2 separate regions of the Homo sapiens genome follow, and region 1 is linked to region 2. The links come from fine-mapping of genetic effects on gene expression. A gene starts in region 2. The other region holds a variant in brackets. All regions are shown on one strand. Distances are from middle to middle.

Region 1 (8,668 bases), 37 kb after region 2:
AGAACCCCTAAATAAATGGAGAGAAGTAGCATGTTTGTGATTGAGAGACTCAGTGTCATTAATATAAAGATGTCAGTTTTGCGACTGAGCAATTGATCCAATGCAATTACTGTCAAAATCCCAACAAAACTATTTTTGTTTTGCTTCATTTTGGAACTGATTCTTAAATTTAGTACAGCGAGGAGCCAGGAATCCTGGAGCCCCTTGTATCCGCTCAGGTCCGCCAGGAGGCAGCTGCAAAAATGATGTCAGGAGCATAAGAGGTGAAAGACAAGAGGGGGCAGAATGAGGCAGGGAAAACCTTAGGGCCTGACACCGGTGGAAGGAAGGAGGCAGGAAGAATTGGGAGGAAGAACTTCAGACTGACAGCACAGCTCAAAGAAAGTCTTGGCCTGTCCACCAGGGAACTCCTATGCAAAGATTGTCTGGAGGACACCCTCACTGGGCAGAAGTATTCATGAGGAGCACATGACCTCAGCTCATATACTGTGGCAGAGCAAAAGGCACTTTAGCTGGACGCTGTCAGATAACTCACTTTCAAAGGGAGATCCGAGCTAAGTGTTCTTTCTTCTCTCTCTCTCTCTCTCTTTCTTTCTTCCAGAGGCTTGCTTCTTCGCCCAGGCTGGAGTGCAATGGCACGATCTCAGCTCACTGCAACCTCTGCCTCCTGGGTTCAAGCAATTCTCCTGCCTCAGCCTCCCGAGTAGCTGCGATTACAGACGCATGCCAGCACGCCCGGCTAATTTTTGTATTTTTACTAGAGACGGGGTTTCACCATGTTAGCCAGGATGGTCTTGAACTCCTGACCACAAGTGATCTGCCTGCCTCGGCCTCCCAAAGTGCTGGGATTACAGGTGTGAGCCATTGCACCCAGCCTGGCTGCTAAGTGTTCTTAAAGGAGGCTGATGTAGGGGAACTTACCCTATTCGATGTAAGGATATGTAGTTAAGGCCAGGCATGGTGGCTCAGGCCTGTAATCCCAGCACTTTGGGATGCCAAGGTGGGCGGATCACGAGGTCAAGAGATCAAGACCATTCTGGCCAACATAGTGAAACCCCCGTCTCTACTAAAAATACAAAAATTAGCTGGGCATGGTGGCGCACGCCTGTAGTCCCAGCTACTACGGAGGCTGAGGCAGGAGAATTGCTTGAACCCGGGAGGCGGAAGTTGCACTAAGCCGAGATCACACCACTGCACTCCAGCCTGGGCGACAGAGCAAGACTCCGTCTCAAAAAAAAAAAAAAATTGTCGCTAAAGTGAGAGTATGCTATTGGTAAAAGGATACACAAGTAGAACAGAATATAGAGCTTCAGAACAAACCCACACGTATGGACTTTAGCATATTTCAGAAGCAGCAAATCATTGTGGAAAGGATGGACTATTCAAATCCTTGTAACAAGGATGGATGATACATGATGGAAAAAGATGCAACTGAAAACTGTATTACATCAGTACTTATAATTTTTACTCATCAAAGATTCCATCAACAAAGCAAAAAGAGAAGCTACAAACAGAGTATATTTGCAACCCATGCGAACAACACGTTTAATATTAAAACCAAAATGTAGTGTGTATACTCATAAGTGTGTATATATGTGCACACAAATATGTACGTATACATAAATCAAGACAAAATAAGTAGAAAAATGGGCAAAGGATATTCAGGGGCATTTCACAGAAAAGAAACAGGACTGGTCAAAAAACATGAAATGATGTTCAATCTCATTGGTAATTGCAAATACAAATTAAGAGTTCAGTAAGGTGTCATTTCACGCACACTTGGATGACAGAAATTTAAAGGCTGACATTACCGAGTCGCGAAGAAGATGTGCAACAAATAATGCCAACTCTGTGCTGCTGGCAAAGTCAAACCAAAGAAGTGCAAGCACCTGGAAAACGAACTTGGCATTATTTTTCTTTCTTTTTTTTTTTCTTTTGAGACAGAGTCTCGCTCTGACGCCAGGCTGGAGTGCAGTGGCGTGATCTCGGCTCACCGCAACCTCCGCCTCCCGGGTTCAAGCGATTTTCCTGCCTCAGCCTCCTGAGTAACTGGGATTACAGGCACCTGCCACCACACCCAGCAAATTTTTGTATTTTTAGTAGAGATGGGGTTTCACCATGTTGGCCAGGATGGTCTCGATCTCTTGACCTTGTAATCCGCCTGCCTCGACCTCCCAAAGTGCTGGGATTACAGGCATGAGCCACCACGCCTGGTTTGGCATTATTTTTCAAAGTTAAATACACATAATACCCTTCAACGTGGCATATATCCTTGAGAGATTCTTGCTCATGTGTGTCAGGAAAGATGTATAAATATATTTATATTAGCATTATTCATAACAACAAAAGCCAGAATCAACTCAAACATCCATTCACAACAGAATGGATAAACAAATGGTGGCATATTCATACAAGGAAGCACCCGACAGCATTAAAAATGAATGCACTACTGTCGGATGCATAAACAGGAAATAAATCATACAAACGTAATCCCGAATTTTCTCTTTTTTTTTTTTTTTTTTTTACTTTTTCTTTTTTTTCAGAGGCTAAGGAAGGGGTGGGGTTGGGCAGGGAGAGGAAGGGACTGAGGGTGGAGTCTGCTTTTTCTTAAAGAACATTACAAAGGAATACCTTCAATATAATACCTTTTAAAATAATACCTTCGGCCAGGCACCGTGGCTCATGCCTGTAATCCCAGCACTTTGGGAGGCCAAGGTGGGTGGATTGCCTGAGGTCACGAGTTTGAGACCAGCCTGACCAATATGGTGAAACTCCATCTCTAGTAAAAATACAAAATTAGGTGGGCATGGTGGTGCATACCTGTAATCCCAGCTACTCGGGAGGCTGAGGCAGGAGAATAACTTGAACCTGGAAGGCAGAGGTTGCAGTGAGCTGAGATCGCGCCACCACACTCCAGCCTTGGGGACAAGAGCAAGACTTCATCTCAAAAAAAAAAAAAAAAAAAGACATAACTCACATACTATACGATTTGCTCTATTAAAGTATACTATTTGGTGGTTTTAGTCAACTCCAAGTTCTGCGACCATTTAATTTTAGAACATTGTCATCACCCCAGAAAGAAAAGAAACCCCATACCACTTAGTAGTCATTCCTCATGCCCTTCTCTTCCCCAGCTCCTGGTAATATCCTAAACTGTTTTCTGTCTGCATTTGCCTGCTATGGACATTTCAAATACATACAATCATATACTCTGTGGTCCGAGTCTTCTTTCACTTAGTATGTTTTCAAGATTCATCCATGTCATAATATATGTCAATAGTTTATTCCTTTTTTTTTTTTTTTTTTTTTTTTTTGAGACAGGGTCTCACTCTGTCACCCAGGCTGAAGTGCAATGGTGCTATCTCAGCTCACCACAACCTCCGCCTCCTGGGCTTAAGCAATTCTCCTGCCTCTCGGCCTCCTGAGTAGCTGGAAATTACAGGCATGTGCCTCCACACCTAGCTAATTTTTGTATTTTTTGCAGAGATGGGGTTTTGCCACGTTACGGAGGCTGGTCTTGAACTCCTGGGCTCAAGTGATCCACACACCTCAGCCTTCCAAAGTGCTGGGATTACAGGAGTGAGTCACCGCACCCAGCCAGTTTAGTCCTTATAGCTGTATAATATTCCATTGCACAAATATGACACTTTTTAAAAATCCAACGTCAATGGATGGATATTTGGATTGTCTCCAATTTGGGGCTATTTTGATTAATGCTGCAATGAATATCAATTTACAAGTCTTCGTGTGGAGATGCCTTTTAAAATAAGGTTCAAAAACAAAACTAAACAATATATGCTAAAATTAGAAGAAAAGCAGGGGACCAGCAGCGTGCTATTTGGGAATGTTCCAGTCAGTTCATCGAGTTCTTTTTTTAATATTCCTCATAACTCATCACATATTACAATAATCATAACATACACACACATACAAATAGGGTGTTCTGGCCTCCACATTTTGTAAAAAGCTTCATGGTTGGATGTGGGAGGGAAAGTAGACTTTGGTTTCTTAGACGCGTCCACCTTCTCCCTTTCGGTCCCACCGCACTTCCGCTTCC[A/G]AGTACGCCCAGTTCTCTGCTTTGCTTTCACAGCATCTGCTCTGTTATGTCCACAGACCTACCCAACTTTACCAGCTTTAACTATTGGAATGTTTCAGCCAGGGTCGGTGGTTCACGCCTGTAATCCCAGTACTTTGGTCAGCAGTTTGAGACCAGCCTGGCCAATATAGTGAAACCCCGTCTCTACTACAAATACAAAAAATTAGCCGGGCGTGGTAGTGGACACCTGTAATCCCAGCTACTCAGGAGGCTGAGGCAGGAGAATCGCTTGAACCCAGGAGAAAGAGGTTGCGGTGAGCTGAGCTTGTGCCACTGCACTCCAGCTGGGGCAACATGCGAGACTCTGTCTCAGAATAAATAAATAAATAAATATTGGAATGTTTCAACAAAATACAGAAAATAAACAATTTTTAAAAATTTTTTTAATTGGAATGAGGGAAACTCTGAGCCGATGAGCCTATTCTGGTTCTGGAAACCACCCTATTTTAAAAAGAGGGGGAATTGCTATTGTCTTCCCTCCTTTTTTCTTTTTTTTTGTCTTTATGGGTTTATGCTTTTTTCCCCTTTCCTGTGATTTTAGTAGGTTTCAGGAGGAATTACTGGTTAACAAGCATGTTCAACTGCAGTGTTTATCCAGAAGTTTTATCATTTAAGCTGACTGCATTTTCTATTCCTTGTAGTTAAAATCATCTTGATTTGACGGAATTGCAATGGTATTGACCCACAGAAATATTTTATGATTTTTAATGAGTACATCGTATTTCCTCTTATGGAATAAATATGTAATTATTTAATCACTCTTGAAATATTTGAGTGGCTTTCAATTTGTTTGTTTTTTGAAAATAGAATTATAGAAGTAAAAAAATTTAAAAAGTTTACAAGAATTATACAATTTTTCTGCAATTTTTTAATGTTATCGAACATCCCAAACTGGGCACAGTGGCTCACGCCTGTAATCCTAGCACTTTGGGAGGCCAAGGCAGGAGGATGCTTGAGTCCAGGAGTTCAAGACCAGCCTGAGCAATATAGTGAGACCCCCATCTCTACAAAAAAATTATTTATTTATTTATTTATTTATTTATTTATTTATTTTTGAAATAGAGTCTCGCTCTGTCACCCAGGCTGGAGTGCAGTGGCCCGATCTCAGCTCACTGCAACCTCTGCCTCCCAGGTTCAAGAGATTCTCCTGCCTTAGCCTCCTGAGTAGCTGGGACTACAGGCACAAGCCGCCACGCCCAGCTAATTTCTGTATTTTTAGTAGAGGTGGGGTTTCACTATGTTGGCCAGGCTGGTCTCCAACTCCTGACCTCCGGTGATCCACCCACCTTGGCCTCCCAAAGTGCTGGAATCACAGGCATGAGCCACTGCGCCTGGCCTCTACAAAAATTTAAAAATTACCCAGGTATGGTGGTGCATGCCTGTGGTCCCAGCTACTCGGGAGGCTCAGAGGGGAGGATCGCTTGAGCCTGGGAAGTCAAGACTGCAGGGAGTCATGATCAGGCTGCTGCACTCAAGCCTGGGTAACAGAGTGAGATCTTGTCTGATTAAAAAAAAAAAAAAAAAAATCAGCTGGGCGCAGTGGCTCACGCCTGTAATCCCAGCACTTTGGGAGGCCAAGGCAGGCGGATCACTTGAGGTCAGGAGTTCGAGACCAGCCTGGCTGACATGGTGAAACCCTGACTCTACTGACAATACAAAAATTAGCTGGGGATGGTGGTACATGCCTGTAATTCCAGATACTTGGGAGATTGAGGCACAAGAATCACTTGAACCCAGGGAGGCCGCAATGAGCTGAGATGGCACCACTGCACTCCAGCTTGGGTGACAGAGTGAGACTCTGTCTCAAAAAAAAAAAAATTTGCAAGAATATTTATATCAACTTATGCTCCTACCCTCAGAGGAGGAGAGTATCAGTATTTTCACACTCATAACAGCAGGCAGTACTTATATTGTCTTCAAGCTTTATTTTCTGATTATATTCATTTGAAAAAAATTTGGAAAAATAAAATAAAAAGCCGTGATCTCACCATCCAAAGATCTCCACCATTATCATTTGGAGTGTATCATTCCAGATGAGTCTCTATACATTGTTCTTTTTTTTTTTTTTAGAGATAGGGTCTCAGTCTGTCACCCAGGCTGGAGTGCAATGGCGCAATCTTGGCTCAAGTGTTCCTCCCACCTCAGCTTCCCGAGCAGCCGTGACTGCAGGCACACACTACCACACCTGGCTAATTTTTTAAATTTTTTTGTAGAGAGAGAGTCTCGCTTTTTGCCCAGGCTGGTCTCAAAATCCTGACCTCAAGTCATCTTCCCACCTCGGCCTCCCAAAGTGCTGGATTACAGGTGTGAGCCACTGCATGTGGCCCACATTGTCCTTGAGGGAGTGTTTTGGCTTTTTGTTGTTTTTTCTTTGCTGGACATACTGTTCTTTATTTGCTTTGTTCACTTAACAATGGGTTTTGGACATCTTTCCATATCAATATATCGATCCAATCATTTTCAAAGCTCTGTACATCATACTTTGCTTAACCCACTCCTGTTGATGGGCATTTCAATTGTTTATATTTTTTCCTAAATCCTTACAGACACAGCTTGGCAGTTACCCAATTATTTCCTTTAGATAAATAAAGAGATATACTTCTTGGTTAAAGGATGTTTACTTTTTTGAGTTTTCAACACGTTAATACGTACCACTAAAGGTAGAAAAAAGTGAGGCCAATGATAAACAGGTCTCGGGCAGAATCATTTGATCTGCAAAACTCAATTCTTGGACTTTTGATTTATATGAGGTAATGAATTTACATTTTGCCTATTCTGGCAAAATCTGACATTTGTAATTTCAAATTCTTTCTAAAGTGAGACAGTCGCTTGACTATACCTATATTAGTATTTCAGTAACATAAGGCTCAGATTTCAGCTGTGATGGGAACTGCAAAATGGTATGATTCATGTGAGTGCTAACAAATCATTCAAAATTTAGGAAGTTTGCATCTGTTTTATATAGATATATCTAAATTATGAATATGGGTTAATATTTGGAGTATTCTTAGCCTAATGTATTATATTATATTGCATCTGAAGGCTTGAATTGACACGAATTAACCTATACATCTTTAAATATTTGCAAAATTATATTTTATATGAGCCAGTAATAAATGACCATATTACAATTCAGAAGCTGAGAAGTGTAGTGAGGGTTGCCATGGGAACCTTAATGTGATATTCCCTTGCTTTCATTTAAATTTCATTTTTAATATTGCATTAACATTTTTGCATTTAATGGATAGATATTTGAATTAATATTGAAGTGCTCTTTCTAATATAAATAAAATATAAGAAATGAAAATGTGATTTTTCTTCCAATGAACAAATGAACATATAATCCAAGATCTTGTAGAAATAACAGCACTTGAGTTTTAAATTATTGGATTCCATTCATTTATTTTGAAGTTTCTTAAAGGATCTTTTTTAAAGATTCAGAAATATTTATGGATAGTCATATAATTCATGCCTTTAACATTTCAAATATGATTCAGAATTTCCTGAAAGCTTTTTGGGGATAATTTACTGTGCCGAAGTTGATTCTTCTGTATTTCTGACTGACTGACCTCTCACGTCATTTCTACCTCTCCAAGCTCACATTGGGGTAATGATGATTTATAGGGTGATACGCTTAATCTTACTTAAAACAAAATACAGATTACCAAATACCGGTTTGTCTATTTAAATCTTCTATATAAAAATCTAACTTATGCCAGAGATAAATTATAGGGTATTACTTATGGATTCTTGGCTATAAAAAGTATTCATACATAAGGGTATATGTGAATAGTGCACTGAAAATCAAAATAAATGGCTACAATGTATGGACAACAGAACCTGTGACTGCAAGCAGCTGTTGGGTGTCGGGAGCCTTGAGGGCTTGCTGATGTGGCGTAACCCACCGGACGTGTGACTGTGTGTGAGCTGCTTAATCTCATGGATAAAACAAAGAGTCTGAATTAGGATCACTAGCTTCTTTTCTACTAACGTAGTCGCTAAAAGAAATTTGGAAAATTATGTATCCCCTTACATGTTTTGACTTAACATTCAAACTTTCATTTATAAGTATTTAATTTATGGCATATTCACATTTTAAAATAAAACATTTATTTAAAATATCCACTAAAATCTACATATCACAGCAGTTTGCTACCCACCATACATTTTTTTGTTTTGTTTTGTTTTTTGAGATGGAGTCTCACTCTGTCGCCCAGGCTGGAGTGCAGTGGGGTGATCTCGGCTCACTGCAACCTCTACCTCCCAGGATCAAGTGATTCTCCTGCCTCAGCCTCCCAAGTAGCTGGAACTACAGGCATGCATCACCACGTCCAGCTAATTTTTGTGTTTTTTGGTAGAGATGGGGTTTCACCATGTTGCCCAGGCTGGTCTCAAACTCCTGACCTCAGCTGATCTGCCCACCTTGGCCTCCCAAAGTGCTGGGATTACAGGCATGAGCTACCGCACCCGGCCACACCATACATTTTCTAAAATACAAAAATAAAGCTCCATGATTCTACCTGTGGGAGGTACCTGGAGTAGCCATGTTCATAGAGACAGGAAGCAGAAGGG
Region 2 (8,668 bases):
GGGTGGAGTGCAGTGTCATAATCTCTGCTCACTGCAACCTCCATCTCCCAGGGTCAAGCGATTCTCCTGTCTCAGCCTGTGGAGTAGCTGGGATTACAGGCACCTGCCACCATGCCTGGCTAATGTTTGTATTTTTAGTAGAGACGGGGTTTCACCATGTTGGCCAGGCTGGTCTTGAACTCCTGACAACAGGTGATCCACCCATCTCAGTCTCTCAAAGTGCTGGTCTTACAGGCGGGAGCCACTGTGCCCAGCCACGTTTTTGTTTTCGTTTTTTTAATCTAGATTTTTAAAATAATACTGGTTGGTTATATTCTAGAATATAATGTACCTCAGTTTGGGTTTGTGTAATGTTTGTGCATGATTAGATTTGGGTTATGCATTTTCGGTGGGAATACCACAGAAAGGATGCTGTGTTCTTCCCAGTGCACTGTATTAGGAGGCACGTGATACCTATTTTTCTCATTACAGGTGATGTTAAGTTGGATCACTTGGTTAAGGTGATGTTTAATAGGTTTCTCCATGGTGCAGGGCATGGTGCCTCACACCTGTAACCCCAGCACTTTGGGAGGCTGAGGTGGGTGGATCACCTGAAGTCAGGAGTTCAAGACCAGTCTGGCCAACATGGTGAAATCCCGTCTCTACTAAAAATACAAAAAAATTAGCTGGGCGGCCGAGCACGGTGGCTCACGCCTGTAATTCCAGCACTTTGGGAGGCCAAGGCGGGCAGATCATGAGGTCAGGAATTCAAGACCAGCCTGGACAATATGGTGAAACTTGGTTGCTACTAAAAATACAAAAATTAGCCAGGCGTGGTGTTGCACGACTGTTGTCCCAGCTACTCGGGAGGCTGAGGTAAAAGAACCTCTTGAACCCGGGAGGTGGAGGTTGCATCGCGCCACTGCACTCCAGCCTGGGCGACAGAGCGAAACTCTGTCTCAATTTAAAAAAAAAAAAGTTTCTCCATGGCAGGGTCACTCTTTTCTTTGTAATTAACAAGTATCTTGTAGGGAGATACTTTAGGCTATAGTCTGTCTTTAATTATACTTTTATCCAGTAATTTTAGTATCAATTGATTACTCTTAATCTCCTCTTCCAAACTATTACTGTGGCAATTTGTTTTTCTTTTTTTCTTTTTTTTTTTTTTTTTAGACAGTCTCACTCTGTCACCAGGCTGGAGTGTAGTGGCGCCATAGGCATGAGCCACTGTGCCCGGCCTACTGTGGCAATTTTTAAACATTTTAATTTTAGGTTCAGGGGTACGTGTGCAGGTTTGTTATACAGGTAAACTCATGTCATGGGGGTTTGTTGTAGGAATTACTTCGTCACCCAGGTACTAAGCCTAGTACCCAGTAGTTATTTTTTCTGCTCCTCTCCCTCCTCCCACCCTCCAGTCTGAAGTAGGCCTCAGTGTGTGTTGTTCCTTTCTTTTCGTGCATGAGTTCTCATCATTTAGCTCCCAATTATAAGTGACAACATGTGGTATTTGGTTTTCTGTTCTTGCGTTTTTTTGCTAAGGATAGTGGTCTCCAGCTCCGTCCATGTTCCTGCAAAGGACATGATCTTGCTTTTGTTTTGTTTTTTTCTTTTTTGAGACAGAGTCTCACTCTGTTGTGCAGGCTGGAGTGCAATGGCATGATCTCAGCTCACTGCAACCTCCACCTCCCTGTTCAAGCAATTCTCCTGTCTCAGCCTCCCGAGTAGCTGGTATTACAGTCATGCACCACCACACCCGGTTAATTTCTATATTTTTAGTAGAGGCAGGATTTTGTCATGTTTGCCAGGCTAGTCTCAAACTCCTGACCTCAGGTGATCTACCAGCCTCAGCCTCCCAAAGTGCTGGGATTACAGGCGTAAGCCACTGATGATTTCTTTTTTAGGAGGTAAAACATCATGTGTTTCTAAAAGTTAGAGCTGGCCAGTCATGGTGGCTCATACCTGTAATCTTGGCACTTTGGGGATGGCGAGGTTGGTGGATCACCTGAGGTCATGAGTTCCAGACCAACCTGACCAACATGGTGAAACCCCATCTCTACCAAAAATACAATTAGCCAGGCGTGGTGGCAGGTGCCTGTAATCCCAGCTACTGAGGAGGCTGAGGCATGAGAATCACTTGAACCCAGAGACAGAGGTTGCAGTGAGCCAGGATTCTGCCATTGCACTCCAGCCTGGGTGACAGAACAAGACTCTGTCTCAGAAAAAAAAGAAAAAAAAAATTGGAGCTATCAAAAAAAGTTACACATAGGGAAGTGTCCCTCACCCCATCTCTTTTACCCTATTTTCATCCTCCATTTTTTCCAACCTATTTTTATCTACCCTCCGTAGATAAAGAATCCTCTTTGCTTCTCATGTATTCTTCCTGTGTTTCTTTTTACCCAAATGAGCAGAGACATGTGTATCTTTTTCTTTCCCCTCCCTTGTTACAAGAAAGCTAGCAAACTGTAGACACCCCTTCCTCTTTGCCTTTTTCACTTAACACTATATCCTGGAAATCATTCCTTACAGATGCATAGAGATCTTGGCCATTCTTTGTTGCAGCTGCATAGTGCTCCATTTTGTGGCAGTGCCGTATTGTTTTCAACCACTCTCCTATGTATAAACATTTAGGCCATTTCCAAGATTTTGCAATTACAAACCATGCTGCAATATGCTTTTTTTGCATACACGTTTTTGCAATGTTGGAAGTATGACTTCAAGCTAAATTCTTAGAAGTAGGATTGCTGAGTGAAAAAGTTAATAAATGCGTCATTTTGTTAGATAGTGCCAAAATCGGCCAGGTGCAGTGGCTCATGCCTGTAATCCCAGCACTTTAGGAGGCAGGAGGATCACTTGAGCCCAGGAGTTGTAAACCAGCCTAGGCAACATGGCGAAACCCCATCTCTATTAATTAAAAAAAAAAAAAAAAAGATATTGCCAAATTCCTTTCCAAAAAGACCGTATGTTTTCATGCCTACCAGCAGTTTGTGAGAGCGCTTCAAGTATCCTTTTAAACGAGAAGTGATGTTTCCGGAGCATTAAAACTGAAGTGATTTCAAAACCATGTTGCACTCACACGAACAGGTGTGCACTTAATGGACTAAACTAGTTCAGCTGACATGTCTTCTTCATTAGGAACAGTGTGGAGACTGAAAAACTAATTTAGCCTAGAGCAGCTATTTAATTGTAAAGTCTCCTTTCTCAAATATTGATTTACTATGTGAGGAAATATTTACTTTGTATAGAAGTGTGTGGAATTGGACGAGGGGGTTGACCTACACATGTGGTTTGGTATACACATATCCTCATTACAGAGGGTGTAATGAAGATATAGGTGGTTCAGCACCATAGGAAAGGGAAAAAAGAAAAAAAAAAGACGGTAGAGGTGGCCTCCCAAGCATCCACTCCCACTCCTCTTGTTAATGATTCACAATTTGTTGTTATTGTTGTCATTTACTGTTCTCCACACCTTTCCACAAGGCCTGTGTGCTTTGAAAAAATATGTCTCTACTCCGGATAGAAGTGGGGCACACAGGGCCAGGCGCGGTGGCTCACGCCTGTAATCCCAGCACTTTGGGAGGCCGAGGCAGGCAGATCACAAGGTCAGGAGTTCGAGATCAGCCTGGCCAATATGGTGAAACCCCATCTCTACTAAAAATACAAAAATTAGCCTGGCGTGGTGGCACGTGCCTGTAGTCCCAGATACTTGGGAGGCTGAGGCAGAAGAATCACTTGAACCCGGGAGGCAGAGGTTGCAGTGAGCCGAGATGGTACCACTGCACTCCAGCCTGGGCGAGAGTGCAATGAGACTCCGTCTCCAAAAAAAAAAAAAAAAAGAAAAAAAGAAAAGTAAGTGGGGCACACGATTCAGGCCTAAGCTAACCAGACCAACCTCATTCCTGATGGTTGTTAATGTTTCAGATACGGGCCCGCAGCCCTACGTAGAGAAGAGGCCAAGGTAGAAAACATGAATCTGAGGTAAAAAGAAATGAGGTACTTGTTTGCCTCATCAAGCCTCTCAATTAAACTAACCTTGAAGCCTGTCTTACCTTTGGACTTCTAGTGATGTCACCCGGTAAAGCCCATTTGTTTCAGGACGTAAGAGTTGGGTTTTCTGTGACTTGGAACCAAAACCATTCCAATTTACAAAATGAGCAACTTTAATATTACCCATGAGAAATACTTCATTGGTATATGCTCTTTCCTAGCGTTTTTGAAAACTAAACTAGGTGGGTGAAAAGTATATCTTTGCATGAAACTTTTTCATTCCAGAAAACATTTTGTCATCTTGATAATAATGGCCAATGCTACTATATCCAAATTTTTGTCTTTTTTTTTTTTTGAGACAGAGTCTCGCTCTGCCGCTCAGGTGTGATGGCGCGATCTCGGCTCACTGCAACCTCTGCCTCCCTGGTTCAAGCGATTCTCCTGCCTCAGCCTCCCTGAGTAGCTGGGATTACAGGCATGCGCCACCACACCTGGCTAATTTTTGTATTTTTACTGTAGACGGGGTTTCACCATTTTGGCCAGGCTGGTCTCGAACTCCCGACTTCCAGTGATCCTCCTGCCTACCTCAAAAAGCAACTTGATAAATCCACAGGCTCGGTATATTTTAAAAATTCTTTTAAATACAGTATACTTTTCTCTTTTTTTCCAGAATTAACCATGAATCGCACACACAGCCAGAGGCTTTTAACCCGAGAACGGACAAAGGGGCCTGCTTGTGCAATACAATTATTTTTAATGGTTAAACAAATTAATACATAAGACCAGCTTTACCTAATATAATAATAACGAACCAAAGTTTACAACAGACAAGAAAAGCACCAGCTGTCCCCGCCACCCCGGAGCGATCTCCAAGGGGACGCGGGAGAGCGCCGCGGGGGACGCGGAAGTCTGACGTCACAGGAACTGGGGGCGGGGCGGGGAGGCCCGCACACCCTATTGCGCATGCTCCCGCCTCCCCGGCCGCGGCCTGGCGCAGTGCGCACGCGCGCGGGTGGGCGGGTTTGACTGGCCGTAGAGTCTGCGCAGTTGGTGAATGGCGTTGGTGGCGGGAAAGTTGAGTCTCTCCTGCGCCGAGCCTTCGGGGCGATGTGTAGTGCCTTCCATAGGGCTGAGTCTGGGACCGAGGTGAGAGCCGCCGGGTTGGGAGTGAGGGAGATGGGAACAAGGCCGCCGGTGGGCGAGGGGAGCCGAGGGAACCCGGGGGATTGGGAGGCTTGGGGCGGCGCGGCCTGGCCGGGCTGGGACCGGCCTCTCGGCCTAGACGCCCGCGATGCTGGCACCCTCTGCCACCTCTCACCTGGGCCCCAGGGGTCCGCCCCTGGGCAGCCTGGAGTCCTCCGAGGTGGGAGGACCGGGCGGAGGTGGAGGAAGTCTTTCTTTGGAAGACTTGCTGCCTGCCCAGATCGATATAACATACGAGGTCTCTCCTCCCAAGAGTTATGGTCTAAAAACCCCTCACAAATTAACTACCGTTGGAAATGTCAAGCTATGCAAGAAAAGCTAGAAAAGGGGAGGGGTCGCCCGTTGGAGCATTTGGAGCTTTTCTGGAACAGGTGGTGTTTGCGGAGGTTGCCTCACCTCCCTGTAGCCCACGTGTCTCTGCTTAGGGCAGCTGGCCCTCGCCACCCCCTAGTATTCGTTTCCAGCCCAGGTAGCTCCAGAGCCACACAAGCCGGTGGATGCCCCTCAAGAATTGAACCAAGTGTCCAGCACTTACTGTGTGTCAACTACGTGTTAAGGGATAGGAGTAAGCAACAAAAGACATAACTTCTGCCATTAAAGAACTAGTAAGGGAGGCTGCTGTAAGAATTACAGTATTGCACAAAAGTTTGTTGTCCATTAGAGGGGCGGGCATCATGGAAGATGCAGGAGGAGATGACTGAAGTTTCAAGGACCATTTGAAATGGTTTGGCAAGGAGAGGATGACATTCAGAGCGGAGACAGTCGGGAGTACATGGATTCTGAATTAAGCAAGAGCATGGCTAATTTAGATAACTGCAAGTATTTCTGTAAAATTGGAACAAAGGGAGTGAGGGACAATAGGTTGGGAAGTAAGCGCTGAGCAGTGGGCAGGGTATGAAGGATCTTTTATGCAGATGAGAGAGGAAGCAATCTCAAAAGAGTCAGCAAACATTTTTGTGGAGGGCCATGTGGTAAATATTTAGGCTTTGCAGGCCATGCCGTTTCTGTCACAGCCACTCAACTCTGCTGTTCTAATGGGAAGGCAGTCATAGATAAATAAAGGCACATGGCAGCGTTCCAATAAAGCTTTGTTTTTTGGATTTAGCCTGCTGGCCATAGTTTGATAATCCCTGTTCCTAAAGAGTAGAACCACTGCTTAGTATAAGAACGGCTACAGTTATAAACCATAGATATATATATATTTAAAAATATATTTATATATAATATATATTTAAAAATATATTTATATATAATATATATTTAAAAATATATTATATAAATATATATTTAAAAATATATTTATAATATAGATTATATAGAAAGTATATAATACATATAAACATATTTTTTATATATAAATATATATTTTTTTGAGATGAACTCTCGCTCTGTTGCCCAGGCTGGAGTGCAATGGTGCCATCTCAGCTCACTGCAACTTCCGCCTCCCGGGTTCAAGCGATTGTCCTGCCTCAGCCTCCCAAGTAGCTGGGATTACAGGCACACGCCACCACACCCAGCTAACTTTTGTATTTTTAGTAGAGACAGGGTTTCGCCGTGTTGGCGAGGCTAGTTTCGAACTCCTGACCTCAGGTGATCCGCCTCAGCCTCCCAGAGTGCTGGGATTACAGGTGTGAGCCACTGCGCCCGGCCAAAACCTTATATTTAAATGATTATTTGAAACCCAGGTTAAGGTCCGATGATTTTTGCAATCAGAACAAGCCTTGTATCCAAAAAATGAGAGTCTAGCACAGTTAAGTCATGGAACAAAGAATTTAACATCATATCCTTTGCCTGCCTTGTCTGTGTGGCAATCCTAAGCCTAGCTCATACTACTCTGGAGTGGAGTGGGGTGGAATGGTGAATAGGAAGCTAGGCAATTGGCGCTGCTCTATTTTCCTTTTTATTAACAAAACCAGTTAAGCCAGTCTCTTTCCCTTTAAGTGTCTTGGGAACTATGTGGCCACTGCCAAATTTGTTTGAACTCTAGCTTCTTTGCACATTCATCTACTTTGAATTTACTTGGAGGGATTGTGTTGAGGAATATATCTGAAGCCATAAGCTAACCCAAGAAACTGAAATAAACTACTTTAAATTTTTGGTTTTTTTTGAGACAAGAGTCTCACTCTGTCGCCCAGGCTGGAGTGCAGTGGCGCGATCTTGGCTCACTGTAACCTCTGCCTCCCGGGTTCCAGCAATTCTCCTGCCTCAGCCTCCCGAGTAGCTGGGACTACAGGTGCACGCCACCATGCCCGGCTAATTTATTTTTTATTTTTATTTTTTAGCAGAGACCGGGTTTCACTATGTTGGCCAGGCTGGTCTTAAACTCCTGACCTCATGATCCGCCTGCCTAAGCCTCCCAAAGTGCTGGGATTACAGGCATGAGCCACCACGCCTGGCCTGCTTTAAAATTCACTAGAATTAGAACCTAATAAAATAGTTAATCTTTCTTGTGAGTATCAAGGAAAAGACATTTCATATGGGGGTCTTCAAGAAAATAAAGTTGTAAGAATATTTTTTTAGGCTGGGTGCAGTGGCTCATGCCCGTAATCCCAACACTTTGGGAGGTTGAGGTGGGCAGATCACCTGAGGTCAGGAGTTAGAGAGAAACCCTGTCTCTACTAAAAATAAAAAAAATTAGCTGGGTGTGGTGGTGGGCGCCTGTAATCCCAGCTACTTGGGAGGGTGAAGGAAGAGAACTGCTTGAACCCGGGAGGCGGGGGTTTCAGTGAGCCGACATCACGCCACTGCACTCCAGCCTGGGTGACAGAGCAAAACTCTGTCTCAAAAAAAAGAATATATATTTTTTTAGCAGATTCTAGGGATGAAGTTTATGGTAAGCCAGGTGGAGAGTGGAAAACATATGTGCCCTTGATTTAAAAAAGACAAGCATTTGACTACAGTTTACAATAGAACAATCCATTTTTCCCTTTGCACAGTAGCAATAGGATTTTTACTTTTATATCTCACTGAGATTGTGAGAAAAGATCCAGTGATTTGGGCAGTATTTTGGTATCATCCACCAAATGGCTTCATTTGAATACAGTTGTTAAATAATGGTGTACTTTGCATTTTTTCAAGAATGCTAATATGCCTTGAATTTTAAAATAATTGGTAAATAAAAAATTGGAAGTGTCTGTCCAGTTTTGGTTGCTATGCACAGCATACCATGTTTTTTTTCTTTAAAAAACTAACTCCATTATATTTATTATTAAAGCAGTTCATGTACATGGCAGAAAATTCCAATAGCACTGAAGTGAAAAGTAGGAAATGTCTCCACTCCCATTATCATTACCCAAGGATAGCCCTGTGAATATCTGCACATTCTTCCAGGAATTTTCTAATGACGTATTTTGGAGGCTGAGATCTAGAGAATATTGGACTGGAAGTTCAGAAACCTTGGTTCTGCCAGGAGCAAGCATTGTGATTTTGGATAAGTCATTTAACCTTTGCTGTACTTTTGTGAAATGAAGGTGGTAGACTGATTTCTCAGTTCCCTTACAGC

What was found. PIP is the estimated chance that this variant, and not a neighbour inherited with it, causes the effect.
Region 1: its variant is fine-mapped to the expression of XRCC2 in whole blood (INTERVAL, PIP above 0.99).

What each region holds. Positions count from the first base shown.
Region 1 is chr7:152,635,951-152,644,618 of GRCh38, reverse strand. No RefSeq gene overlaps it. Among named protein-coding and RNA genes, the nearest start is that of XRCC2, 36 kb to the left of the region's middle. The variant A/G (reference allele first, on the strand shown) is at 4,058.
Region 2 is chr7:152,672,482-152,681,149 of GRCh38, reverse strand. XRCC2 (X-ray repair cross complementing 2) reads left to right here and starts at 5,009. Exons shown (of 3, transcript NM_005431.2): 1 at 5,009-5,109. The coding sequence starts at 5,071. RefSeq lists silencers at 4,763-5,232, 5,533-5,622 and an enhancer at 4,688-5,532.